7 linked regions of the Homo sapiens genome follow. The protein of the gene in region 2 purifies or fractionates together with the protein of the main gene of each other region. This does not show direct contact. Each region holds a gene or a part of one and is shown on either strand. Other genes may lie near its edges. The genes, in order: CUX1, IRF2, NUDT19, LSM12, GATD3, GTPBP10 and SKIC3.

What was found.
Region 1: the proteins of IRF2 (region 2) and CUX1 purify together in Homo sapiens (affinity purification with mass spectrometry, with the first as the bait; one large-scale study listed by BioGRID). This does not show direct contact.
Region 3: the proteins of IRF2 (region 2) and NUDT19 purify together in Homo sapiens (affinity purification with mass spectrometry; one large-scale study listed by BioGRID and IntAct). This does not show direct contact.
Region 4: the proteins of IRF2 (region 2) and LSM12 purify together in Homo sapiens (affinity purification with mass spectrometry; one large-scale study listed by BioGRID and IntAct). This does not show direct contact.
Region 5: the proteins of IRF2 (region 2) and GATD3 purify together in Homo sapiens (affinity purification with mass spectrometry; one large-scale study listed by BioGRID and IntAct). This does not show direct contact.
Region 6: the proteins of IRF2 (region 2) and GTPBP10 purify together in Homo sapiens (affinity purification with mass spectrometry; one large-scale study listed by BioGRID and IntAct). This does not show direct contact.
Region 7: the proteins of IRF2 (region 2) and SKIC3 purify together in Homo sapiens (affinity purification with mass spectrometry; one large-scale study listed by BioGRID and IntAct). This does not show direct contact.

The regions. Positions count from the first base shown.
Region 1 is NC_000007.14:101,820,334-101,824,285, forward strand, and holds part of CUX1 (Homeobox protein cut-like 1), read left to right. Parts: intron 1-3,952. UniProt on the Homo sapiens protein: May be involved in intra-Golgi retrograde transport.
Region 2 is NC_000004.12:184,390,896-184,394,847, forward strand, and holds part of IRF2 (interferon regulatory factor 2), read right to left. Parts: intron 1-3,952. UniProt on the Homo sapiens protein: Specifically binds to the upstream regulatory region of type I IFN and IFN-inducible MHC class I genes (the interferon consensus sequence (ICS)) and represses those genes. Also acts as an activator for several genes including H4 and IL7.
Region 3 is NC_000019.10:32,690,243-32,694,921, reverse strand, and holds the start of NUDT19 (acyl-coenzyme A diphosphatase NUDT19 precursor), read right to left. Parts: upstream 3,102-4,679; 5' UTR 2,962-3,101; coding exon 2,248-2,961; intron 1,958-2,247; exon of another isoform or gene 828-1,957; intron 1-827. UniProt on the Homo sapiens protein: Fatty acyl-coenzyme A (CoA) diphosphatase that hydrolyzes fatty acyl-CoA to yield acyl-4'-phosphopantetheine and adenosine 3',5'-bisphosphate.
Region 4 is NC_000017.11:44,039,088-44,043,039, forward strand, and holds part of LSM12 (protein LSM12), read right to left. Parts: intron 1,170-3,952; coding exon 1,060-1,169; intron 1-1,059. UniProt on the Homo sapiens protein: Nicotinic acid adenine dinucleotide phosphate (NAADP) binding protein. Confers NAADP sensitivity to the two pore channel complex (TPCs) by acting as TPC accessory protein necessary for NAADP-evoked Ca(2+) release.
Region 5 is NC_000021.9:44,136,433-44,140,384, forward strand, and holds part of GATD3 (glutamine amidotransferase-like class 1 domain-containing protein 3, mitochondrial isoform 1 precursor), read left to right. Parts: intron 1-744; coding exon 745-864; intron 865-3,817; coding exon 3,818-3,910; intron 3,911-3,952.
Region 6 is NC_000007.14:90,353,039-90,356,990, reverse strand, and holds part of GTPBP10 (GTP-binding protein 10), read right to left. Parts: intron 2,534-3,952; coding exon 2,442-2,533; intron 1,906-2,441; coding exon 1,761-1,905; intron 1,285-1,760; exon of another isoform or gene 1-1,284. UniProt on the Homo sapiens protein: May be involved in the ribosome maturation process. Complements an ObgE(CgtA) function in E.coli ribosome maturation. Plays a role of GTPase in vitro. When missing, disorganization of the nucleolar architecture is observed.
Region 7 is NC_000005.10:95,516,779-95,520,730, forward strand, and holds part of SKIC3 (superkiller complex protein 3), read right to left. Parts: coding exon 3,938-3,952; intron 545-3,937; coding exon 368-544; intron 283-367; coding exon 138-282; intron 1-137. UniProt on the Homo sapiens protein: Component of the SKI complex, a multiprotein complex that assists the RNA-degrading exosome during the mRNA decay and quality-control pathways.

The sequences.
Region 1 (3,952 bases), on a different chromosome or scaffold from region 2:
TACAGAGGTAGGTTAAATTCCTACCCGTGCTTCCATTTCAAATAGTTTACACATTTGTCACATGTAAATTTCACAGACAGGTATATCTGACGAATTGTAACACAAATGGTATGTAAAAGGCAACTCTAACCATTATTCAAATATACAGGATCCAGGATCGTGAGTTATTGTAGAAATTACTTAAGACCTATTTAAAATTATTGAATACATAACTTTAAAAAATGTAATTGCTCTATGAAAAGTGACTTTTATTATAATTGTCAAAGACAGAAATTTGTCTGTCTTGTCCTTTTGTTTTGTCTGAAGCCCCGCGTTATCGCTGCAGAGAGAGAGTTTTGGTTTCCACCGAAATTTCCCTGCCTCCGATTGTTTAAACCAGACCCTTAATCTTATTTTAACATATTTAAAATGTTCACAAAACCCGGAAGAATTGTTTTGTGTAAGTAGCAAGCGAGTGTAGCTTAAACACTCAAGCAATTCTGGTATCTAATTGGAAACAGGTGGAATTCTTGGAATCCCATGTTTGAGTCTTTTTATAGCAAAGCCCAGGGACACTTTTCACTTATAGCCATTCGTTTTGTCGAAGCTATTTGAAGAGGGGCCCCACAGCCTCTCCTTATGTCCCACTGTTGCTTACCTGGACAAAGCAGTCGTGCTGGGCGCTTTAGGAACTGGATACCTGTGAATGCCTGGATGCCGAGAGAAGTGTGTGTGTGTGCCGATAATGGAGTGAAAAAGGAATCTAATGGTATAGTTAGACAAGCAATTTAATATCTGCATTGTTATATGACTTTAGAGCAAAGAATTTGTGAATTCATTTGTGATTTCTGACTTGATGAACCTTGACTGACCAGAGCATGTAGGTACATTTTATTATACCCCAATAATGATATAGAATTCAGAGAGAAGATACTCCCCCCCGCCCCCAAAAAAATTCTACATTTAGAGAATATAAGCTCCACCAGCAACCATAAAAGTATTAACTTGGTGAGGGGGATATTTTCTTTCTTTTTTTTTTTTTTTGAGACAGAGTCTCGCTCTTTCGCCCAGGCCGGAGTGCAGAGGCACTATCTCAGCTCACTGCAAACTCCGCCTCCCGGGTTCACACCATTCTCCTGCCTCAGCCTCCCGAGTAGCTGGGACTACAGGCGCTGGCCACCAGGCCTGGCTAATTTTTTGTATTTTTAGTAGAGACGGGGTTTCACCGTGTTAGCCCGGATGGTCTCGATCTCCTCACTTAGTGATCCGCCCGCCTTGGCCTCCCGAAGTGCTGGGATTACAGGCGTGAGCCACCGTGCCCGGCCCCTATTTTCTTTTCTTTTCTTTTTTTCTTTTTTCTTTTTTTTTTTTTTTTTTTTTTTTTTGAGACGTGGTTCTGTCGCCCAGGCTGGAGTGCAGTGGTGCGATCTCGGCTCACTGCAAGCTCCGCCTCCAGGGTTCAGGCCATTCTCCTTCCTTAGTCTCCCGAGTAGCTGGGACGATAGGCGCCCGCCACCATGCCTGGCTAGTTTTTTTGTTTTTTTGTTTTTTTTTTTTTTTGAGATGTAGTCTGGTTCTGTGGCCCAGGCTGGAGTGCAGTGGCGCGATCTCGGCTCACTGCAAGCTGAGCCTCCCGGGTTCACGCCATTCTCCTGCCTCAGCCTCCGGAGTAGCTGGGACTACAGGCGCCCGCCACCACGCCCGGCTAATTTTTTCTATTTTTAGTTGAGACGAGGTTTCACTGTGTTAGCCAGGATGGTCTCGATCTCCTGACCTCGTGATCTGCCCGCCTCGGCCTCCCAAAGTGCTGGGATTACAGGCGTGAGCCACCGTGCCCGGCCGATGTTTTCTTAAATATTAATGGCAGGGCCCTCTGGATTGACTGTGTTATTTGACCCATTCCAGTTTTCAAGGCGTGGTCTTGAAAAGCTGTCGATCACCCTGGTTTTGGGATGTGTTTCAGAACCAAGTTTCGATGGTGTGTCAGTGTTGGATTTTCCTGCTGAGGACAGCTAAGGTTTGGTATGGAGCAGTTTTGGATTTGCTGAGCTGTAATCAGTCCAGCTTCTCTGCTGTCTTCTGAGAAGGTTGATGGAGGAGAGTGGTCTTTGGCGGGGATGGAGGTTTCCCTGCAGGAAATGAACCAGGACTGAGGGGAACCTGTGCCGTTCCCCTCATTTGTCCTGCGCCTGAAACAGCTTTGAAGCACCTGGCTTGTGACTTAAAAGATTTTTAAAAAGCATTTGTGCTGCCCTATTCGGGTATTACACAGTGAGGGTGAACCATTCTTTTCGAAAGACGTCTAAGGCCGGGCACGGTGGCTCATGCCTGTAATCCCAGCACTTTGGGAGGCCAAGGCAGGCAGATCACTTGAGGTCAGAAGTTCGAGACCAGCCTGGCCAACATGGCAAAACCTCATCTCTACTAAAAATACAAAAATTAGCCTGGCGTGGTGGCGCATATCCATAATCCCAGATACTCGGCAGGCTGAGGCATGAGAATTGCTTGAGCCCAGGAGGTGGAGGTTGCAGTGAGCTGAGATCGTGTGACTGCTCTGCATGCAGCCTGGGTGACAGAGCGAGACTCTGTCTCAGAAAAAAAAAAAAAAAAGACATCTAATTTGTTGTAAAACCTGTCAAGAACCTTCCCTTTAAAAAGCTAATGCCTCTCTAATAAAAATAATTTTAATTTTGTTGTAATTAAATTCAGAGAGGATGATGTTAGTGCACAAAATAAAGATTGTCAATTTCTTTATTTTAATCCAACGGCATTTCCTAACTGCAGGAGGCCCAGGACCGTTGGCAGAAATTTTGTGTTGATTAGAGCCTCGGGCCATGGGAAGTGCAGGTACTGTGGCCACAAAGTTCGTCGCCCAATCCCTGGCTGACCCCACAAGCAGGACTGGTACAGATCCCACCCTCAGGGGTCTTCCTACACAGAGAAACATAATCACACAGGTGACTGGAACGGAGCCAAGGATGGTGGTGTTCCTCCTAGGGATTTACTAACACTGCCAGCAACTCAAGAACTAGCCAGCCGGGAGTTTCCTAGTAAGTGAAACTGACTTGGTTCTGCTTCCTTTCATGAAAACCTTTGTGAAAATGAGCCCAATAAGGGGTCCGAACCTTTATAAAGCACACGACCCCCCAGAGTGGACCGGGCCCTGGCCGACTCCATCAGCCGAAGCTTGAGATCTTGGATGGTCTGGATGGTCTTGACCGTGTGTGATTGATGCAGTTAACAAAGCAGGAAATTAACAGAGCTTACTCTGAGACACCAGGGAAGTGGCTTGTTCTTTCTTGGGGTTACTTTGAGTGGATGCTGGCACACTGCTTGTTTTCTTATAGATACCTTTCTATTGGGCTGTGTTTATTCAATAAGGAAATGCAGTTAACATTTTTTTAACAAGTAAACCATGGGTTATGAGGTGTTCCGAGTTTGGTTAAGGGAAAAACAAATTGACAAATTAGCTCTTTCTTAAGTGAGTATTGCGAAACAGTGAGAAATAGAATGCCTGTCGTACCGTCATTAAAAATTTATCTGGGTGTTGACAGCTTTTTGTTAAATGTAAGACATTCAGATCCTGTCCACCCAGCATATGAAAAAACCAAACCAAACCAAACCGAAAAACAAAATGCAACACAAAAGCTTCTTTCCATTTCCCCCCAAAAGCAAGACAATTTTTCTTAAACTGGGGCTTTCTCCCTAATGAATTGCCATGATTTTGTTTTCTCTAACATAGTTTAATATCTTTAAGACAGAACGAATATCAACTCTTTTTATTTTATTTTTTGAGACGGAGTCTCACTCTGTCGCCCAGCCTGGAGTGCAGTGGCACAAACTCCGCTCACCGCAACCTCCACCTCCCAGGTTCAAGTGATTCTCGTGCCTCAGCCCCCCCGAGTAGCTGTGATTACAGGTGTGCACCACCACGCCCAGCTAATTTTTGTGTTTTTAGTAGAGACAGGGTTTC
Region 2 (3,952 bases):
CTAGAGTGAATTTCAACTCTGTAATCTTCGGAGAAACCAGGCTTGAGAGCTGTGAGGAGGCTCCCTTGGCCAGGGCCGGGCTGTGTATACACTGGGCACTACCTCCCAGGAAGGGGCGCTGGTCCCTGGGGCCCTCCTCACTGCAGCTCTGTCCACAATGCCCACATGGGTCCTGTCTTTCAATCCATGCCAACCAATTCATTTAATTCCCAGTGCAGAGTTGACCGTTTCCAAAAGGTCTTCCTACATTATCCCCATCCCACTCAGATCCTTCCTTTACCTCTCACCCCTTTAGGACTTAGATCCTGGATTTCTAGAGTTGCATCTGCCATGTGGGTTACTGTAGGTGGACAGATCTGGGGTGCTCCCCATGATCCTCACCTCCTTGGATTCACTTTCTTTGGGATTGCCTCCCTTGAGTGTGGATGGAATGTGTCTGCTTCTAACAAATAAGATACAGCAAAGGGGATGAAATGGATGTGATCCTGTGTCCATGATCATGTTACATAACTCAGAAACCTGCTGGGAGAGGAAACACTCTGCCTTGCTGGCCTTGATAAAGCAAGCAACCATGTTGGGAAGGCTCCTATGGCAAAGAACTAAGGACTGCTTCCAGCCAACAGCCAGCAAGAGACTGAGGCCCTTAGTCCAACAACCTGCAAGAAACTTAATTTTGCCAAAACCACATGAGCTTGGAAATGGACCCTTCCCCAGTTGAGCCTCAGATGAGACAGCAGCTGTAGCCAACACCTCCATGGCAGGTTTGCAAGACTCTGCAGCAGAGGACCCAGCTAAGCCACGCCTGGATTCGTGACTCAAAGAAACTGTAAGATCCAAATGTGTGTCGCTTCAAGCCACTAAGTTTGTGGCTGCATGGCTATGGCAGCCAATCAGTTGCCATCCCCATTTGGCCTGCCAGCTGTGAGACACTGGGCAAGTTTCTCACCTTTACTGAGCTGCAGTTTTCTCCTCTGTAAAATGAGGGCACTGCCACCATCTAAGAGGATTACATGGAGAGTGAGTGAGAGGGTACATGGGAAAGGCCTAGCAAGGGCCTGGCACACAGCACACACTCCATACATCAGCACTGCTTAACACTGGGTTTGCACAACAGGCTGGATTAATGGAATCGAAGTCTAGTGATTACACATGACCTATGCTTATAAAAAGCTTTTTAAACGTAAAAACATTTTGATTTTGTAAAATAAAATATCAATGGTGTGCGATTATTCCAGTGTCCATAACCATTGAGAAATGCAATCACAGAGGGCAGAGCCTGTGCAATATTTAGGCATTTAGAGATCACTTAGCCTGAGCCATTCGTTTTACAGACAAGGCCTAAAGAGTAACTGCAATAGCTTCTCTTCCTGATGGCAACCTTTAACTGCCTTTCCTCCTATTTAGTTCCAATGCTGAATTTAATAACCCCATACCCAAAAGTATGGTAAATTTTAGGTGACGTATATTTCACAACACAAGAAAATCCAAAAGTGAAGCTCGTGTTCTAAAAGAAGCAAACATTTAGGGAGCCCTATGGGTCAGTGCCATGTCAGAGGCTTTGCATGCAGGTCTCACAGGGGTCCCACGTCAGCAAGCAGCTGCTCTCATCCCCCGTTACGCAGAAGAGCTCTTATGCTCCAGTGCCTTCCAGCTTTCCACCCGGTCCCTGCTGAGGGGCTGGCCTCTGTCTCACATCTTCCTGGTGGCAGAGCTGGGATGAGATGGCTCCAGCCCAGACAGAGCCCTTTCTTCCACTGAGAGCATTAGCCCCAGACCAGGCTCTCTATCAATTAAAGGCAAAAGAACAAATGGACAAACTGTGCCACAGGTGCATTCCTTAAACAAGGAAAGTAAGAATGTGGACTCCACTGGTCCCAGCCTGGAGTCTCTGGGCCTGTTTCTCAGCCACTGTTCTCCAGTAACTTCACACAAACCTGAGTGATCGCGGTGGGCTGGCCATGAGCATGCAGAAGACAGATCTCTCCACTCCTCGGACTGGGCATGTTTCCCCAAAACACCCCGTGCTGGGAGCCACAGAGACCCAGAGAAGCCCTCAGCCTCAGCTGACGACGATCCCAGCTATGAAGATGAGCTGACGTTGCCGAGCACAAGAATTGTTTCCACGCAGAAACACATGAAAACCAACAGAAAAAGAAAATTCCCCTCCTCAGAGAACCCTCGTGCTGGCTCAGTATCCTGAGGAGGCAGGAATCGGAACAGCCACTCCCAAGAAGAAAAATGAGGAACAGAGATGTTGAGAAACTTGCCAAAGTTGCCAACTGAGACAGCACAGAGGAGAGAAAACAAAACTGTACTTCTGATTCCAGGGCCTGTGCACTGCACACAGCAGCCCTGCTTCCCTGGTGTTCTGGTCTCTGACAACATTTCAAGATCCGCTTTCCATTTTATGCTTAGCTTTCTTTGTGCTCCAAAGCCAAGCTTTCTCTTCCTTTCATACGGGTTCAGATGCTCTTCACTCCTAATGACTCTCCATAAATATCACTGTCTTCTTTTCCTTTCCCCTCCAAATACAAACAAAGATACGCAACCAAGCATGCTTTGGGGGCTGGGATTCCAGCACAGCCCCAGTCGCAGGTGCAGGAGGGGCTGGAAGTCAGATCCTGGGGTAAGGCTCCCGGGTAAGACCTTGCACCGCCCATGAATGTGACCGGGATGCTAACTTCCTTTAAGTACCCAGTTTTCAGCTTCGGGGAAATAGCTGCAGATAAGAAAAGATACACATGCTCCGAACTTATGTTTTCAGCTGACACAAATGCGAGTTAAAGAGCGTCGTGTCTAGATTAAGTTCCACAGCATCTGAAGTCGTCAGGAAGATGCGCCCTATTAGGACACTGACAGTTTCAAAAAGGGGCCTTCAGTACCTTAGCTTAGGAGCAGAGAACCCTGAACCTCCCCCTGAGGGGAGCAGTTCTCTCTGTGACCCCAGAATCGGTGGCTCCAAGTGCTTTGTTGGATGCACTGCGCCCCGTGTCCTCTGTTTCCTTGGTTTGACCACCATTGCCACTTCCACGCTGACTTCTTACACAAGGGAGCTGACTGCAGCTGGGCCTCCAGATCAGTGTTACTATCGAACTATCAACATACGTTGTCATTTCATTTTCCCTTTTGATTAGTTTGAATTTGTTTTTGCTTTTTGTTTATTACTTACTTCGAATACAATGGAATAAAGAAGTCTGGAGTTGCTTCTCCAGCAACTCCAAACAAATGAAGAAGCTGAAGGTGTTCGTACAGTACCAACAGGCACATGAGTAATTCACTTAACCTTTCTGGTCTCAGTTTTCCTGAAAGCATCTAGGGTGGGAGGGAAGGGGAGGATTTGGATTAGATGATCTCAAAAGCTCTTCCAGTTCTAGGGTGACACTGGTTGTAGGTTCACTCTCTATCCAGTCCAGTTTTTAACGCCTCGCTGAGGATATACATATTGTCTAAGCAGGAACACTGCGGGAAGGGAGAGGATGCATTTTCACCTGAAAGGCTTTTTGCACTCTGACATTCTGCTACACTTTCTGGAAGGCTCTTGTTCAGCAAGTTTGATTTGAATTTCTTTCTATTGATCATATTCTCAATTACTTTCACCAGGAGTAAATTATTTTCAAATCGGAATCCTCTTAATCTCAAAGCGATTGTGTCTTTGCTCTGCCCAACAAAATGCAAGCCTGGTGTGGTTTCCCGAAGGATTCAAAGCCTTTACTGATGGCTGCTGGTCAGCAGGCGATCTCCACTCTCTCATTATAGCCAGTGAGTCCTTCAGATGATGTTTTCTTCTCGAGTCTACTCTCCAGCCCCTCTTACCCATCCTCCCCCACCCCATTATTCTACTGTGGTTTTCTTCTACTAAACCATCAACCACCTAATAAAATTCTGATGCCACAGATCAGGCAAGGGGTCACTTTGTAATGCACCTTTAAACATGACATGTCTCTCCGCCAGA
Region 3 (4,679 bases), on a different chromosome or scaffold from region 2:
CACAATGGGTACTCAGTACGTGATAAGGAAACTCTTACAGAAGCAGAGTTAGGAAAATTGCCTAATAATTGGTCTGCTCAAATGTGCAAGCTGTTTGCACTCAGCCAAACCTTAAAGTACTTACAGAATCAGGAAGGAGCCATCTATACCAATTTTAAGTGAATATGGACTGAACGAGGTCTTATTAATAGCAAAGAATAATTGAAATCCCAAACTTAAGGTTTTCAACAAAAGTAAAGTTTGCTAAAAGTTAACAGTGTAACACATATTATCCTAACTTCTAATCTTATGGACATCAGACCCTATCAGTGCCCCTCAAAGCTCAAGTCCATCAGCACAGGGCCATACAACTGATACCCCTACTTATAGGGCTAGAAATGGCCACTGCTACAGGAACCGGAATAGCCAGTTTATCTACTTCATTATCTTACTACCACACACTCTCAAAGTATTTCTCAGACAGTTTGCAAGAAATAACAAAATCTATTCAGTAAGGATAGTAACTACAATCCCAAATAGACTCTGGCAGCAGTGACTCTCCAAAACCCCCGAGGCCTAGACCTCCTCACTGCTGAGAAAGGAGGACTTTGCACCTTAGGGGAAGAGTGTTGTTTTTACACTAACAAGTCAGGGATAGTGCAAGATGCCGCCCGGCATTTACAGGAAAAGGTTTCTGAAATCAGACAACGCCTTTCAAACTCTTATACCAACCTCTGGAGTTGGGCAACATGGCTTCTCCCCTTTCTACATCCTGTGACAGCCGTTTTACTATTACTCGCCTTCGGGCCCTGTATTTTTAACCTCCTTGTCAAATTTGTTTCCTCTAGAATCAAGGCCATCAAACTACAGATGGTCTTACAAACGGAAACCCAAATGAGCTCAACTAACAACTTCTACCGAGGACCCCTGGACCGACCCACTGGCCCTTTCACTGGCCTAGAGAGTTCCCCTCTGGAGGACACTACAACTGCAGGGCCCCTTCTTTGCCCCTGTCCAGCAGGAAGTAGCTAGAGCAGTCATTGCCCAATTCCCAACAGCAGATGGGGTGCCCTGTTTAGAGGCGGGATTGAGAGGTGAAGCCCCTGGACTTCCTGGGTCCAGTGGGGACTTGGAGAACTTTTCTGTCTAGCTAAAGATTTGTAAATGCACCAATCAGCACTCTGTAAAAACGCACCAATCAGTGCTCTGTGTCTAGCTAAAGGTTTGTAAATGCACCAATCAGTACTATGTAAAAACGCACCAATCAGTGCTCTGTCTAGCTAAAGATTTGTAAACGCACCAATCCGCACTCTGTAAAAATGGACCAATCAGCACTCTGCAAAATGGACCAATCAGCAGGACATGGGCAGGGCCAAATAAGGGAATAAAAGCTGGCCACCCAGCCACCAGCACCCAACCTGCTCTGATCCCCTTCCGCTGTGGGAGGTTTGTTCTTTTGCTCTTTGCAATAAATCTTGCTGCTGCTCACTCCTTGGGTCCGCACTACCTTTATAAGCTGTAACACTGACCACAAATGTCTGCAGCTTCGCTCCTGAAGCCAGCGAGACCACAAACCCACCAAGAGGAACAAACAACTCCTGACGCACCACCTTTAAGAGCTGTAACACTCACTGCGAAGGTCTGCGGCTTCAATCCTGAAGTCAGCGAGACCACGAACCTACCAGAAGGAAGAAACTCCAGACACATCTGAACATCTGAAGGAAGAAACTGGACACACCATCTTTAAGAACTGTAACACTCACTTCGAGGGTCCGCGGCTTTATTCTTAAAGTCAGCGAGACCAAGAACCCACTGGAAGGAACCAATTCTGGACACACCAGGAGCTGGAGACGAGCCTGGGTGTGCAACACAGAGAGACAAGACCCCCATCTGTACCAAAAATAAATAAAAATAGGAAGACTGGATCATATTAAGTCTGTTCTCCAAGAAAACCAAATTAAACGGCTGTGGAGATGTACTATGTCTACACATGTACAAGTGCTTACACAGTGGCCACGCTGGAGGAACCACGTGGAGAGACAGGCTCCAGGCCTTGAGACCCCAAAGCCTAGGAAAGCAGAGAGCACTTCACCAAGAGCATGGCTTTGGTCTACAGGGGTGAGAGTTTCCAGCCCGTCTAAGCGTTCCTTGCTGCTTAATCTCTCTGGGCTTGGCCTATGCGGGGGTCCCTTGGGGGCCTGGGCCGCTGGGAGGGGTCCTCCCTCTCACGTCCTGGCGGTCCGCAGCAAGGCCCTGAGCAGGCCTTACCTGGTAGCCCACCACCTCCGCCAAGTCGGGGTAGACGGGCGGCGGCTCGCGCAGGCAGCACAGGAAGAAGGCCGTGTCAAAGCGGCGAGTGGTGCCCCGCAAGAAAGGGGTGAGCCAGGCGCTCCAGTTGTGCAGCGCCCAGATGTCGGGTGTGCAGTCGAGGTGGGCGCACAGCCGCAGGAAGTGGCGCGGGTCCTGGCGCACGCGGTCGCGCCAGGAGGCCAGGCCCGGCGGTGGCTCCAGGGCGAGGCCAGGCCCGGGTGCTGGGCCTGGTGGGGAAGTCCTGGGCCGCAGCAGCAGCACGCCCGCCTCCTCAAAGGCCTCCCGCACGGCGCAGATGCGGAAGGCTACGTCCTCAGGCAGCGTCCCAGTGTTGTCGGTCTTGTGGTCATCGGTGTCGGGCAGCGACGGGAAAGCGGTGCGGCTGAATGGCGCCGGGCCCAGGCCGAAGCGCGGCGGCCCGTGGTGCGGCGCGAAGAGGCCCAGCCAGTCCGCCGAGCGGTCGGCCGCATCCAGCACTCCGCCGGAGAAGACGTGCGCGCCCGGCATGAAGCCTTGGTGCGGGGAGCGCTGCAGCAGCAGCAGCCGGAAGCCCTCGGCCGGCGGCGGGCGCGACGGCGGGGTGGCGGTCTCCGGGCGCGACCAGCCAGCCGCCAGGACGATGCTGGCCGCCCGCCGCCAGCGGCTGGGGCCCGGCCGCAGGGAGCTGCTCATGGCGCGCAGCTTCCCGGATCCGATTCTGGCGCGGCCTGAGCTCCACGGCAGGTGGCCCGGCCCTGCAGGGACCCCAGCACCTCCGGGGGCCTCGCGGGAATTGAGGACGAGCCTCTGGCGTTGGGTGAACCTGGGCGTTTGGTCGGCAACGGCGCCTGCCTGTGGGAGGGGCACCCGAGCAGGGACCGCCTCGAGTGCACTGGGGCCCAGCTAGGGCACTCTCGCGGGACAATGGGTGTCACGGCAGCCAGCGACCGTTTGTCATTCACAGCTGCCTGAAAGGAGGACCGCAGTATTCCCACGCAGGAAGCTTGGACCAAAAGCAGGAATGCTTAAGGGCGCATATGACTTGCCATGGTAAAAAACAGGATGCCAACCCAGGCCTGATGACATCCACCTCACTAAAAGCTAAGGACTAGGACTTTCTGCTTTAAACAAGGACCCACATGTGGGTGTTTTCTGTGGGAGAGGGAGAGAGGACATTCGAAGGGCAGAAGTCTGACCTTTGCAAGCACACGTGAACCACACCAATGAGAAATGAATGGACGAGCCAGATGCCAATTTATAAATTTCCTACTGCACACCTTGAATGTGAAAGGTACTCCCAGAGTAATTTCTCTCGTGTTCTGGTTACCTTTTATTGTCAGGGCGCCTGGGGACGGCCTTAGGTGTCTTAGGACATTTGACGAGTTCCACTTTGATGGGAGATGTTTAATCTGGGCCTCCACATGGAGATTTCTCTCCACCTTGTTAGTGTCTAGAAGACTTCCACCTCCAATAGCAGGATTATGATCTTTTGAAAAGCCTGTGTAAATTTGAGTCTTTTCTTTTATAACTCCTTATCAGTCACCGACAGCTTTTCCCATAATTGCTATTATAATTGGATCACACATTTGTTATGTTTTTGGATGAAATACACTATACCCCTGCCGACCCTCACAAACCATCATTTTAATGTGGGTTATTTCCTGGGTAGAATCCACAGATGACATTGTCAATATTTAGGGGTTTTGTTTGTTTTTTTGTTTGAAGAGACCTGGTCTCTGGCCAGGCGCTGTGGCTTACACCTGTAATCCCAGCACTTTGGGAGGCCGAGGTGGTCGGATCACCTGAGGCCAGGACTTCAAGACCAGCATGGCCAACATGGCAAAACCCCGCCTCTACTAAAAATACAAAAATTAGCTGGGTGTGGCGGCCCGCGCCTATAGTTGCAGCTACTCAGGAGGCTGAGGCAGGAGAATCACTTGAATCTGGGTGGAGGTTGCTGTGAGCCAAGATCCTGCCACTGCATTCCGGCATGGGTGACAGAGCGAGACTCTGTCTCAAAAAAATAAATAAATAAATAAAATAAAAATACAGAGCAATGGAGAGAAAGGCACTCAGGTGATTAAAGTAACATGTCTTCAATACTAGGAGTAATAATAATCCTAGGGGATAATAATATTAGTAGTTACTGGGTACAGTGTGTGAGGCACTAGGAACTTTATTAGTATTAGTTGTGTAATTCTTACAAAACCCCATGAAGTGGAAACAGTTACCACTATTTTACAGATGACTAACCATTTATGGAGGGATTAAGGGTCTTAAGAACATACTACTCCCTTTGCTGTAAAATAACACCGTGGTTTTGTAGGTGAATGTGTGTGTTTCAACATCAGCTGGTTTTCACAGAAGCTGGTTACTCATGAGTGAGATGACCAAGTCCTGGTCCTGGGTGC
Region 4 (3,952 bases), on a different chromosome or scaffold from region 2:
TCTTGTTGCCCAGGCTGGAATGCAATGCACAATCTTGGCTCACCACAACCTCCACCTCCAGGGTTCAAGCGAATCTCCTGCCTCAGCCTCCTAAGTGGCTGGGATTACAGGTATGCACCACCACGCCTGGCTAATTTTGTATTTTTAGTAGAGATGGGGGTTTCAACATGTTGGTCAGGCTGGTCTGGAACTCCCGACCTCAGGTGAACCGCCCACCTCGGCCTCCCAAAGTGCTGGGATTACAGGCGTGAGCCACCGTGCCCGACCAACAAAATGTCTTTTTTTTTTTTTTTTTTTTTTTTTTTGAGACGGAGTCTCGCTCTGTCGCCCAGGCCGGACTGCGGACTGCAGTGGCGCAATCTCGGCTCACTGCAAGCTCCGCCTCCCGGGTTCACGCCATTCTCCTGCCTCAGCCTCCCGAGTAGCTGGGACTACAGGCGCCCGCCACCGCGCCCGGCTAATTTTTTGTATTTTTAGTAGAGACGGGGTTTCACCTTGTTAGCCAGGATGGTCTCGATCTCCTGACCTCATGATCCACCTGCCTCGGCCTCCCAAAGTGCTGGGATTACAGGCGTGAGCCACCGCGCCCGGCCCCAAAATGTCTTTTAAGAGGTGGTAAGAAGGTGGCCTGCTCTAACTCCCTGTGTTCATCCCAATCTACAATGGGAAAAGTGATATAGATATAACTTTCCCTTAATAAAAACTGCATCAGCTTTTAAAGAAAGGCACAAAACAACAAAATCAAAGAGAAGAAATCACTAGTTCTAAGTTATGGACTACTAGGTCTAGAAGGGATCCTTAGGGATAATCTAATCCAAAACTAAGTTTTACAGACAAGCAACTAAAGACCAGAGAAGACAACTTGTCCGTGATTACACTATTCTTCTGTGTGGAAAGGGGGCTACAGCACCTGCACCTCTGGATGCTGGCATATTGCCAATACCCTACCCAGCTTCCCCAGTAGACTTTTAGGAAGACAACCACCCAAAAGCCTGCCACCAGACAGCACAACCAGGTAGCATTACCCCAGGACAAAGGACCTCTCCGATCCCAACTCACGTCTTGTGAATGGTCTGGAAGAGCTGCTGGCCCTCTAGAGAGACACCAGCACTGATTGCATAGGCCTGGCTCAGCTTCTCCTCCTTCTCTGTCCGTGCTTTGCTGGCAAGCTAGGGTGGAAGAGAGGAAAGAGACTCAGAATAGGATTCATCTTCATTCTTGCCAACAGTCAGGACCTAAGCTGAAGAAAGGAGGCCAGGAAAGACTTGTTTGGACAGATTCTGTTTTCTCAGAAATGAAAAGTGAAACAAATTTTAAAAATCCACGACATACCTGAACAGTTACTGGTATTCCAAGAAAACGTTCCTTCCTTCCTTCTAATACTTACTGCATACCTACCATGTGCCAGACATTCACTATGCTAGGCTAAATATAGCCTGAAGTGGGTGGGGGAGACAGACTATAAACAAGTAACTGAAATCAAGGTGATTTCAGACAGTGATAAGCACTAGGAAGAAAATAAAGCACTTTTAACATTATAGAGTGTGGCTGGGGGACTATGTGATGGCAAATGATGGTCAGAGATTTAAAAATATATACATTTCCGGCCAGGGGAGGTGGCTCATGCCTGTAATCCCAGCACTTTGGGAGGCCGAGGCAGGTGGATCACGAGGTCAGGAGGTCAAGACCAGCCTGGCCAAGATGGTTAAAACCCTGTTTCTACTAAAAATACAAAAAAAAAAAAAAAATTAGCCAGGCGTGGTGGCGGGCTCCTGTAATCCCAGCTACTTGGGAGGCTGAGGCAGAGAATTGCTTGAACCCAGGAGAAGGCTGCAGGGAGCTGAGATCGCGCCACTGCACTCTAGCCTGGGTGACAGAGCAAGACTCCGTCTCAAAACAAAACAAAACCAAACAAAAAAAAATACATACACATACACACACACACACTTCTAACTGGGTGCATCACTGAGGTAGGGAGTTCGAGACCAGCCTGGCCAACATGGTGAAACCCCGTCTCTACTAAAATTACAAAAATTAGCCGGGCATGGTGGTGCGTGCCTGTAATCCCAGCTACTCAGAAGGCTGAGGCAGCAGAATCACTTGAACACAGCAGGCAGATGTTGCAGTGTGCCGAGATCATGCTACTGTACTCCAGCCTGGGCAAAGAAGTGAGACTCTGTCTCTTTAAAAAAAAAAAAAACAAACACACACACACACACACACACACACACACACACACACACACAAACACACACACACACACAGAATTTCCATTCAAGGCGAAAATTAAGATTTATCAGCTGTTGTGCTAGAGCCTCCAGTTTAAAAATTAATACATACCACACCTTCACAGACCACAATCTGAGACTCTAAAAACTCTTACAGAACATTATCTGTGCTCACATAGGGAGCCAGGACTCAAGTAAATCTAACCATAAACGCTGTCCACCTTTAACTTTAGCTAAAGGCAACCCTGTCCTGCTTTTGAGAAAAACGAAGAGTCTGAATTCTACGTCATGTCTGTTCCTTCACTGCCCTCTGGTGGAACCATCCACAAACTGATCAAAAGAAAATCTAGTAAAATCTGGTAGTCTACTACAATCTCGTAACTTCTACCCTGTCAATCCCTATCACCTCTCCAGCACATTTCTGATCCCTACCCCACACTACTGGTTGCTAGAGATTCCAGAGGTACAAATTTGTTTGAGTGTAAGACAAAACAAATGTGCTAGACAAGGTAGTTAAAACAAATTAAAGGCAAACAATGCATCTTAAAAGTCCAACAAATAATCTGGAGACTCTTCAGACCCATGAACATGAACAGCTGAGTCTAACAATGCTGCAGCACATGTGCAAACACGCGCGAGAACACACAATTTGTCCCCAAACATCAGTTCCTTAAATAAAAAGAGGCACTGGCTGGGCCCAGTGGCTCACGCCTATAATCCCAGTACTTTGTGAGGCCGAGGCAGGCGGATCACCTGAGGTCAGGAGTTTGAGACCAACCTGGCCAACATGGTGAAACCCCGTCTCTACTAAAAATACAAAAATTAGATGGGTGTGGTGGTGTGCACCTGTAATCCCGCCTACTCAGGAGGCTGAGACAGGAGAATCGCTTGAACACGGGAGGCAGAGACTGCAGTGAGCCGAGATTGTACCACTACACTCCAGCCTGGGCGACAGAGCAAGACTCCGTCTCAAAAAAAAAATGGGGGAGCCATACCTACAGCATATTCCAAAAGTACCTTAATGCTTGGAATCTTCAAACATTTATATTCTGCTTTTACAGTGATCCATCAAACCATAAACTAAGCATAGCTTTTTTTCTTGGGATTGAGTTTCACTCTTGTTGCCCAGGCTGGAGTACAATGGCACGATCTCAGCTCACTGCAACCTCCGCCTCCTGGGTTCAAGCGATTCTCCTGTCTCAGCCTCCAGAGTAGCTGGGATTACAGGTGCCCGCCACCACCCCCAGCTAATTTTTTTTTTTTTTTTGAGACGGAGTCTCGCTCTGTCGCCCAGGCTGGAGTGCAGTGGCGCAAGCTCTGCTCACTGCAAGCTCCACCTCCCAGGTTCACGTCATTCTCCTGCCTCAGCCTCCCGAGTAGCTGGGACTACAGGCGCCTGCCACCACGCCCAGCTAATTTTTTTGTAGTTTTTTAGTAGAGATGGGGTTTCACTGTGTTAGCCAGGATGGTCTCGATCTCCTGACCTCGTGATCCACCCACCTGGGCCTCCCAAAGTGCTAGGATTACAGGCGTGAGCTACCACACCTGGCCATTTTTTTGTATTTTTAGTAGAGACAGGATTTCACCATGTTGGCCAGGCCGGTCTTGAACTCCTGAGCTCAGGTGATCCACCCACCTCAGCCTCCCAAAGTGCTGGTATTACAGGCGTGAGCCACCACGCCTGGCTCCAAGCATAGTTTTATAGCAGAGGAAGTAAACCAAGT
Region 5 (3,952 bases), on a different chromosome or scaffold from region 2:
CTCAGCTTGGTCGCCCACCTTCTTCCCCTGTCTGGGCTCCAGATCTGTTTTGCTGGTTCCCAGCAGCATGTCTGTTACTGCGGTGTGTGTGGTTCTGGCCTGTGTGGCCTGAGATCCCCTTCCCTTGCCTGTCCTGCCTGACAGCCCTGTGCAGGCCATTCCAAGGTGCCTTCCAACTGGCCTCGGACCACGAGAGGTCGGAGCTGGAGATTCGAGGAAGAAGCCATAGCTGCCTCCTGGGGCTGTGCTTCTCACCAGTGGGGACCCCTGTGATTTCTTTTCCTGCCTGGGACCCTGGCTTCTGCACCTGGACTTGCACCTTCGGCCCCCACACCTGGGGGCTAGCAGCTTCCTGCGGTGGCTGGCCTTCGGGTTGCTTCACTGGTCCTGAGTCCTGGCTTCTTACCTTCCCCTCTGAGTCCCACCGTCCTGATGAGTGCACAGAATTCTGTCTGCTTTAGACACTCGGAGAGACTTCCATTTCCCATGGGCCTTGACTGCAGAAGATTCAGAGTGATTTGGCGCAGGTTCTGAAGTGCTGATCGGAAGAGCCCAGCATAGATTTAGCGTTGCTAGAACCATGTTGTCTTTCCAGGTAGTGACCAAACATGCTGACCTGGAAGTAAGTCCCCGTGTGGCTGAGAGCCACGTGTGTGGAGCGTGTTGCCTGTGGGCTGTGCCCCTGCCGCGCTCCACAGTCCTTCACCTGCATGCTGAGGCTTTTTGCCCTGTGCTCTTTCCCAGGAATGTTTTGACCGAGTCTGCGAGGATCGCCCGTGGCAAAATCACAGACCTGGCCAACCTCAGTGCAGCCAACCATGATGCTGCCATCTTTCCAGGAGGCTTTGGAGCGGCTAAAAACCTGTGCGTATTTGAGCTCCAAGGTCTTCCGCTTTCCATGTGGAGCAGATGGGAAGGGGGTGCACCTGTCTGCTGTCCAATGTGGTCAGTGGAGCGGCGATGGGAGGGGGTGGTGATAGGAGCAGTCTCTGGGTTTAGGGTCTGGGCAGGGCACGTGCCTGCCCTCTGACTTGGGAGCTGTTCTTAGGGTTGGGTCTTAGGTAGCGTTGTAGCGAGCCATGCTTTTGTTTCTGCTTCTCTGCTGCCTCTTCTCTCAGCATTCCTGGTACCCAGCAGCTTGTCAGAGTGGGTTTGGGGCTCCCTCTTATCTCATCACTGTGCTGTAGGTCTCGTCACGTTGAAATCAGTCTCTGAGTATTTACTCCTTGCAAGTGCCAGTTTTTTTTCTCTCTCTCTCTCTTTTTTTTTTTTTTTTTCTGTAGAGATGAGGTCTTGGTCTGTTGCCCAGGCAGGGATGCAGTGGCACGATCCTAGTTCACTGCAGCCATGATCTCCTGGGCTCAAGCCATCCTCCAGCCTCATCCTCCTGAGTAGCCGAGACTATAGGCGCATGTCACCATGCCCATGGTTTTGTTTTTTTTTTTTTTTGGCCATGTATGTAGCCCAAATTGGTCTGGAACTTCTGGGCTCGAGTAACCCTCCTGCCTCCCAAAGTGCTGGGATTCCAGGCCTGAGCCACCGCGCCTGGCCCCAATTCTCTTATGGAACCTTGCAGGATCAGAAATGGGTTTCCTTCTTGGTAGTTTGGGCGGCGGTCCTGACAGGAAGAAGGGAGGCCGCCTTGGCGTGGCTGTTTTGGTAGCTGGACCGTGAATCATGGAGGCCTGGCTGGCTCCCACACGGTGGCGTCCTTGAGTTCCAGATCCTCTTTCTGTTCTCTGTGTCTCCTCTCTCTCTTTGCACATTCATGGAGGTTCTCTGGGCACCGCCCCCATGGCCCTGCCTGAGAGGTGGAGGTGGTGCCAGGCTGACCCTCCAGGGACAGCTCTGCCACCTGCAGGAGCACTGGCCACAGTGCATCGGAGCGTGCAGGTGGCTTCTGTGCCATGGTGTGGGTGGCAGCCCCAGCACGGCCGGCCCCGGTCGGCAGCTCCTGTTTCAAGGGCAGGTTGGAGGCTGGCTGGCCGCTTGCCCCACCCTGGGCAGCCTGCACCCAGAGTCGAGGGGTAGGCAGTCTCCATCCGAAGAATGCGCCCCTCCTTATCCCGAAACCTCAGAGGCCTCCTTCCTCAGATGCCAGCTGTTTTCTCAGTGCCCTTGGCCGTGCCCTCACCCCTCTCTCACCGGAAGCCCCACCCCAGCCTGTCGTCCCCGGTCTCCTGAAAGCCAGCAAGCCTCGTCGGTGCCGCCCACACCCCTGACCTCACGCAGCCCCACGTCAGGCTCGATCTTTTGTCCAGTTGTCCCTGCGTCGCTGCCGTCTCCACGAGGCTCTGACCACTGACACCGTGTGTGGCGGGGCGCAGGGGCAGCTGGAGGGTGTGCTGGGGGCTCCGTGCCCTGGCATGGCTCCTCCACATTTTGCCAACCCAGAGGCACAGGCGTGAGGTGTGTGGTGGTTCTCAGGGTCAGTGGGTCTTGGCCTTGGCTTTCAAGGTGTTGATGGGCCCTGGGACTGATGTGCCCGTGTGTCTGAGCCCACGTCCCCTGGGCGAAGCTCCCATTTTCACTGACCTGTCCAGAGCGTTCTGGGTGAGCCTGCCCTGCGTGTCCATGGTGCGGCGCGCTCTAATGAGCTGCAGCCGTGGCCACTCTGCACCCTCTGAGACAGTCACCCATGGGGACGGCGAACACCCACTGCCTCCAGAAGATTCCCAGCACTCTGCCAGCAAAGCCATGTGGAAAATGCTGGGGCAGAGGACTGGGGTGCGTGAGGGTGGCGTAGAGCCCAGGGGTGGGTTCGTGGGAAGGTGTGTCCACTTGTAGATTTGGTGGCATTGCCAGATCACACGCCCCATGGGCAGTGTGGAGAGACCTCCCCTGCCCCGCGTGCCCTCCACAGCTCCTGCTCCTCGGCCTGAGGTGTGGATGCTGGTGTCGCAGGTAAACTGGCGTTTCTTTCACGGTCATCGAAGCAAGAGTGCTTGGTATGCCTGGAGGCCGACTGCGTTTCTTTTTTTGGGAACTCCTGGAGTTTCCTGCTGCCCCTTTGTTTTAAGGAAAAACTCTCACACCGTGTTTCTCCTCCTCCCACCACAACAGTTGTCCACACAGAAGGTGGGTGTGAAGGGTCTTCCCCATGCACCACGCAGGGGTCGCTGCTGCCTTCTAATTCAGTTCCAACAGTATGGACCCGGGGTAGCGTCCGATCGCACGGGTTGAGGGCTCCGTCCCCAAAACTGCCCTCTGACACATACCGGTAAACTGTCTGAGCCTCTGGAACTGACCAATTGGCTTCAAGTTGGGGTTCCCACAACCCCGTTTGCTGGCGTGGCTCACAGTGCTCAGGGAAACATGACGTCAGCATTCTCCCCCGGGGAGTGGGGGACCCTCTCAGGAGAGGGTCCTGAGACCCACAGTCAGAAAGGCGGGGAACATTAGAGTCCTGCTTTGGGGCAGGTAAAGGGCAGGCGGGAAGGTCAGAGGCTGCCCGAGGCCCGACACAGCCAACGTCGTAACAGAAAGCTAACAAGCAGCACGGGAGTTAGGAGCCGGAAACCAGCGTCTGAGTCTCAGCACCGCAGCCCGGGTTCTGCCAGCTGCTCCGGAAGGTTCCAGGGCGTGGGCCCTCTCGCCCTGGTGGCCTCCTGCTGCACCACTTCCTGATCCTCCTGCTTCCTATGCTTATTTCTGTTTAAAAAACAGGAAAATATGTTCACATCAAACGCGCATATGTGCAGCCATGCCCATGTCCCTTGCTGCAGCTGACTGAGGGTCTGGAGCTGTGCCTAGGAAGCCCCCCAGGAATAGACCCTGGTTGTGAGGCTGTCTGAGGAGGCCTTTTGTCTCCCGGTAGGAGCACGTTTGCCGTGGACGGGAAAGATTGCAAGGTGAATAAAGAAGTGGAGCGTGTCCTGAAGGAGTTCCACCAGGCCGGGAAGCCCATCGGGTGTGTACAGCCGTGCAGGCCTCGGGGAGGGAGGGAGGAGGG
Region 6 (3,952 bases), on a different chromosome or scaffold from region 2:
AAAATATGTTAAACATTCCACTTAAAAATCTTTTTCCCCCATTCTTGTTTGATATGCTTAAGAATCTTGATGCTTTAATTACAGACAAATTTCAAACCTACTTCTGAAAAGCCTAGTATTTCATTATATGCAGTTTTCCAGTAAGTTGGCAATATAATGATGATGAAGATAGCAGCTACAATTCATTGAACGTACAAAAATGCAAAGCATGTATTCTGCTGTAAATGCATTATCTTACCCACCAACATTTTAAGGAAAGACTTATCTCCATACACTATTAAAGATGAGAAAACAAATGACGTGGTGAAAAGCAAAAAACTATAGTGAAGGAAGAATGAGAGAAAAGAAAAGAAAAAAAGAAGAGAAAACAAAGGCTTAGAGAGGCTGTGTAATTTACCCAAGACCAGCTGGCCAGCCTCCAGAGGATTTGAGATCCTAACCTAAATAGTCTAACCTGAGTCCTCCATGCCACTCCACTTTTATGACTAAGCCGTGCTAGGCTCCTCTTAGACTGTAAAGTTGTCTCTTCAGAACTTGAAACACATGTTTATGCAAAATGCAACTGTGATTGGCTGGACTGCCAGTCTTGTCCATAAGACCCTATTAAGCCCATAATGTTCCTAAAAATATAGAGGATTATAGAACTTACATCTAATAACTCTTGTAACTGTGCTTTATTGAAAAAAATAAATGTAAATGGCAAGCCAGGATCACATCTTTCCTTGTTATAATTTTAGCAGGAATGGGGCCTCTGTGAACCCTAAACCAATGGTGGTAAGCTCTAGTGGCTGGTCAGGCAGGGCAAAAGACGAGGGATACAGACTTAAGAGTCTGGTAAAGAAGCAGTGAGATGACTGAAGAGGAACATGAAAAGAACTTAGAAAGAAGCTATGGGGAAGCAAAAAATAGAACTAGGAATTTGGAGTAGGACAGTAATAAGGCAGTTTTCCTTATCTTGTCCTTAAGCTTTCCATCTGAATAACTGTGTAATACTGTGATAGGGCCAGAGGGAGAGGATAGGAGGGAGGGGGGATGGGGGAGAGAGAGCAAATGCAAATTGAAGTTTTCTCTTCCTTTATGTATTCTGTATCTTACTATCTATCCCCTTCCAGTGGGCAGCTGCACTGCAAACCCCACAGCTAAACAGCATTATTTAATGAAAGAATGGAGGCTGGTGGAAGAGGACACTCTTGTGAGGCCTACATTGCTGAGACTAGATAGATCCTAAGCAGAGGCAAGAAGGATATACAGTCATAGCAGGATTCAATTTGGCGGCAACAGTGCGTAAGTCTGAGGATTGAGATTGTCTGTACTGGTCTTTAGCCATTTGATTAACGATACTTTAATGTCTCTATTAAGACCCAAAAGAGTTATGTCAACCATTTTTCCCTGTTTATTTCCTTCTATATATTTTTAATAATAATACGGTTTGTTTGGATTTATTATTAATATCTGGTAACATTATTTAACCATCTTGTAATATTGCATTTGATTGATTTTTCTTTCTTTATGCATTCTCTAACATTCCCACTGATCTATTCAATTGCTCTGGTCTTAATTTTATAAATAAGCAATAACTATGAAACTCTGTGTTGGCAATTTGAAAATAATATTTAGCAGCATATTTTCCAAGTACATACACAACACACAAATTCCATAAATTAGAAATAATTATGGCCCCAAATTACCATTTACATTTATTTTCTATTCAAGAACTCTCTCTCTGAAAGTATAATAATAAAAATATGAACGATACTTACCCTACTAGGCCTACATCAGCTATAAGTTTTAGATCAAGGTGAATTATTCGTTTCTGGCCTTTCAATGGTAAGAAATTTGTAAGTAATTTACCACCAAGACCTCCTTGAGCTACCAAAATTCTGTCATTTTCTTTATTGAGTTCTCCTTAAAAAGAGGGAGAGAAATACTTACAGCAAAGATTAATAAGTGAAATCACTAATGCAATATATTTCTTTCAGAAATACAGGCAAAGAAATGCAAAATTACAAATCTATAGATTAGTAAGTGAAATCATTAATGTAATATTTTACTTTCAAAAATACATGCCAGGAAATTCTCAATTACAAATCTATAATTAATAAGTAGAATCATTAATGTAATATTGTTCTTTCAGAAAAACAGTCCAGGAAATTCCAATTTACAAATCTATTAAAAGTTTGACCCCAGAAAAACACTTCAGTAAACAATTGAAAAGAGCCTAGTTATATATTTTAAGACCAAGTAAGAACTGTAACATCTTTAAAACAATCTTAAATCTAGCAGTCAATTTAACTTTTATAAGTTTTAAAAATGCTCTCTTATAGAATAGTAGCTAAAATTGTTAGTTAAAAAATCTTCTGAAACTCAAGAGAAGCTATTCCATTGTTTCATTTTAGAAAACGTGCACATTTTTACAACTTTTGGAGTTATAGTACACTCACCTATAATTTTACCATTTTCATCAGTTACTGAAATACCCACAGGCACAGGGATTTCACAGTCTTTTCCTTTGGAGCCTTTCAGTGCACTAATTCTACCAAAAAAAAAGTATATATATGTATGTATGTGTGTGTGTATATATACACACACACACATACACACAAAATGGTTTACAAAGAAGAGTAGCAATCAATTCTCTGGTTAACGCAGATGTTAAATGGTCAAACACGGGGTTTAAAAAAACTAAAATTATCCCTAATTATTTCTTTGCATTTTAGACTATTATATCCCACTAAAATGGCATTAAGTAATGATTTAAGTTACTAAGCTAACCACCAAAGGTCATTTTAACCCGAAACTAAAATATTGCAACCATGAAATGAAGAGATTATTGCTACAATACAAATAGGGTAGAAAAAGCCAGGCGTGGTGGCTCACGCCTGTAATCTCAGCACTTTGGGAGGCGGAGGCAGGAGGATCTCTTGAGTCCAGGAGTTCAAGACAAGCCTGAACACCATAGCACGACCCCATTTCTACAAAAAAAGAAAAATTTAAAAATTAGCTGGGCATGGTGGCACATACCCGTAGTCTCAGCTACTTGGGAGGCAGAGGTGGGAGGATCACTTCAGCCTGAAAGGTAGAGGCTGCAGTGAGCTATGATAGTGCCCACTACACTCAACCTAGGCAACAGAATGAGACTCTGTCTCAAAAAAAAAAGAAAAAATGAATCTATAAAAAAAAAAAGAAAATCCACCAAATAGCAAAGCTTTTAAAAAACTAACCTCAAATGAGAGTACTTACATTATAGAAGGCAAATCTGGCTACTCTTAAACTGCTCATAAAAGAAAAAATTAGTACAAATGTTTTAGTAATTCTACTTCTGGGAATTTATCAAAATAATAATTGAACAAACATGTAAAATAGTATCTACACAGAATGCTGCACTGTGGTTATAATCGGAAAAAAAAATCAACAATAACCTAAATAGACAAATGACAAAATAGTTATTTATTATGCAGGTATTCTGAATAATTTTGACATGTGAAAAAAAGTAAAAATAGCAGATTGTAAAATACTGTACTCTCATTTTTGTATTCTAAACTTTTAGGCACATAATTGCATTTGTGTAAACACACAGAAAAGTCTTAGAAAAGTCAAGAAAAGGTTAATAGTGGTTATCTTGCCTTCTAATGGTGGTGGGGTAGAGTAGCATGGTTAAGACTGAAAGTTTTCTAAAAGGTTGTCAAAGATAATTTTAGAAGAAAACAGTGGGAATTCAGATAATTATCGGTTTCTACAGGGGAAGTGCAAAAAGAATACAGATAGACATTGGGAAAAGAAACGGACAGAAAGTTTTAAAACTCTGAAATATTCTTTAGTATCAGTCTTTTATGAGTTGAGACATTTTAGGCTTTTGCTTGGTTATAAATACAGGAAATAATTTACTTCAAATTAACAATTAAGTTTTTATTTTGTAACTAAAAAAAAAATTTCCAGAAGGGTTTGATTTTCT
Region 7 (3,952 bases), on a different chromosome or scaffold from region 2:
TTATTTCTTGGAATAGCAGCATGTATATCAAGATATATGTGGTTTTATGTGAAAACACTATTTACTTCATCCAAAACAACTTCGAGAAAAGCATTATGTTTTTGAAAAGGTTTATAAAAAATTTATTTATACCATACATGTAAAGATTTCTCCAGCAACTCCTTAAGATCATTCATGTTGCTGCCTGTTTCTGCTAGATGTTGTGCTTGGCGATAATAATTAATTCCAAGGTCACACCATGTATTAGATGTAGACATCAGTTTTAATGCACGACCATAACACCTACGGGAATATAAAAGTGAATGTTTTTTGTTACAATGCCTTAATTCAATTCAAATGTTATTAACTGGCAATCTTTGCAAATTACCTTCCTCCAAGGTGGAGGAGCTCATTTTTCTTTAATACTTGTTTTCCTTCTTTCTGACCTAGAAGGACTCCTAAAACATGAACATTCACTTTAGATGGTGCGACAGCATACAGACAGGTACAAGCATCCCCAGCTAGCTTCCAGAGGCAGGACACATCAGCTCGATGCTGTAGAGCACTAAAAAAAGAAACATTGTGATTCTTACAAATTATTTATAAAAAGCATGAAGTTTATCTCCCTGATTATTACTTAAAACAGAAAAACTGTACATTAAGTACTTTACTAGTCTCCTCCTAACTGAATCATATCATATCACCTCCCTAATAGGAAGGGAAGAAGAAAAGGAGAAAGGGAAGGAGGAAGGGATTACTTTAAGTGCCAGAAATTTTGTGGACACTTTTTTTTGTTACTCTTCACCATTTTTATTAGAAGTAGCAGCAATCACGCAAATAAATAAATAAGTTTTCCAGGACCAATTTCCTTTTAATATTAAAATGTTAAAACTATGCTTTTTGTGTTTAAGCAATGACCAAGGCAGTAAAGTTTGTAACTCTCTTACAACTGACAGTTGTAAACTCAGGTTTTTGCTTTTAGATCTTCTCTCATGCTGTGTAGTTTTGACTACATCCCCACAAAGCTCATGAGTTGGGAACTCAATCTCCAGGACAACAATGTTGAGAAGTAGGACCTTTAAGAGGTGATGATGTCATGAGGGCTCTGCCTCCCTAAATGGATTAATACTGTTATTGTAGGAATGGGTTAGTTGTCACAGGAGTCAGCTCCTGATAAAAGGGTAGGTTCAGTCCCATTTTTTTTCTCTTGCATTCTGCCCTTCTGCCATAGGATGACCCTCACCAAGATGCCAGCACCATGCTCCTGGACTTATCAGCCTCCAGAACCAAGTCAAATAAACTTCTGTTCTTTGTAAATTAACCAGTCCATGGTATTCTGTTATGGCAGCAAAAAATTGATGAAGACACCTCAAATAAAATATACCAAATATATTTGGTAAGATCTGAAAGATTTTTGTAAATTTTATTTTTTAATTGGCATAACTATATATATTGATGAGGTACAGAGATGTTTTGATACATATAATGTATTGTGATCAGATCAGGGTAATTAGCATATTAATCATCTCAAACATTTATAATTTCTTTGTGTTAGGAATGTTCACTATCCTCCTTCTAGCTATTTGAAACTATATATTATTGTTAACTACAGTCATCCTACAATGCTACAGAACACTAGAACTTATTCCTCCTATCTAGCGTAATTTTGTGTCCTTTAACAAGTATTACCCATATATCCTTTCCCCCTACCCTTCCCAGCTTCTAGTATCCTCTGTTCTACTTTTTACTTCTATGAGATCAATTTTTTTTTTAGCTTCCACATATGAGTAAGCACATATGGTGGTTAACTTTCTGTTCCTGGCTTATTTCACTTAACATAATGTCCTCCAGTTCTATCCAAATTGCCTTAAATGATAGCATTTCATTCTTTTTTATGGCTGAATAGTATTCCATTGCATATAAATACCACATTTTCTTTATCCATTCATCTGTTGTTGAATATCTAGGTTGATTCCATATCTCGACTATTGTGAATAGTGCTGCAATAAACATGAGGGTACAGATGTCTCTTTGATATAATGATTTTCTTTCCTTTGGATAAGTTCCCAGTGGTGGGGTTGCTGGATCATACGGTAGTTCTATTTGCAGTTTTTTGAGAAAACTCCATACTGTTCTCCACAGTGGCTACACTAGTTTGCATTCCCATAAACCATATAAGAGTTCTCTCTTCTCCACATCCTTGCCAGCCTTTATTTTTTGTCTTTTGAATAACAGACATCCTAACTGGGGTGACATGATACCTTACTGTGGTTTTGATTTGCATTTTCCTGATGATTGGTGATGTTGAACATTAATACCCTGAGACCAAAAAAAAAAAACAAAAATCTAAACATAAAAATCTGAAGAACTACATTTACCGAAACAAGAGCAGACTGAATGAACAAGCTCAAAAAGCAAAGAGAAATATTAATTATGGTGACAGAGGGCAATTCCTTTTAGAATGAGAAAAACTTCAGCTATACATTTTTCTTCATTTTTCTCTTCTCGAGATCTTATAAATAACACATGGCAATTTCATTTAAGCCAAGTCTCAATAATCAGCTATCACAAGCTGCTATGTTACTGGCAGATGGAAAAGCAGATGGAACATTTTTCATAGCCTTTTCTACTCATGGAGTCCAGCCAAAAATAATTTTCCAATGTCTTCCTAAGAAATAATATTAATTATTGTGGTCATAACTAAAAGCCCACTGAGAATCTGAAAGAAGGGCAATATGATTTGGAGTTCCTTTGCCTAAATATCTTAGCAAAATTTCTAAAATTGACAGCAAAAAATGAGAAGAGAGGAAAAAAGTGAAACAGGCGATTTTAAGAGCCTAAATTCTTATTTTGAGTTCAATAAAAATAAAATATCTATAAATTGAAGTAACTTATATCACCCTTACACAATAATTGTGATAGTATTAACGCCTTGTAAGTCTGGAAGTAAATATACATTTGGAGATTATAATTGTTTTATATGCCACCTTCTAATGGGTTATGTTACATGTTATCCAGAATAACATTTCCTAGGCTCAGAGAGGCAGTATTTATAGCTAAGGTACTGTCACCCAAAGGTTCACATTTACTCTTAAATAGCAGTTCAAATAAAGCATGCCCTTTACACAGTAACTTTCCCTTTAGAAAGAACTACATTATGTGAGACTTGAAAAGTAGCAATAAAATTCAGTGAGATAAAAAAGGGTTAGGTTTTCATTTCATATTTGGTTCATATGAAAAGCAATTCTGGAACAACCAATAAATACAAAACAGAGGAGAAACCAAGCAGGAAAAGAGGGGAAGTAGAAGAAAGATGTTTAAGAGTTACAAAAAATTCAAATGTACATCTAACTTGTGGACTTTTGGAAGTCTTCTACCACAGATAACACTTTTTCTGACCTAACCAATGAATTCACAGTTCTATAAAATGCCAAATCTACTCAAAATTTTCTGATTCCTTTCTTGTTATTAGACACATCACTTTTTTCCTTCACAGTTTCTCCTCAGGAGCAATCAGATTGTCATTTCCCCTTACCTTCAAGACCTACTAATAATCCTACAATTGGCTCTTACCACTGAATGTACAGCATATTGAGCACCTGAAGCCCTATTTCCCAATCGGTTCCAATTAAAGATACTCATTTCCAGGCCTACTGAAAGAGAACACTAACACATGGTGTCAGAGCTGCTGTTCCACTAGCAGACTGCTCCTTCCTTCCTATTCTTTCCTATGCATCTAGGATGCCAGCCACTACTAAGAGCAGAAGAAATTATATCTGTTTCCCCAAGTGCAAAATTAATACAACATGTATGTTATAGAATTGGCTTGTCTGTTATTCTTTATGTTTGACATTCTGAGCAATTGCTATATCTAGCAGAATACATAAAATGATCTTCTAAATTTGGCTTCATTTTAATATTACAAAAATAAACAATAAATAATAAGAATAATACGAACCAAGTAAAATATTCC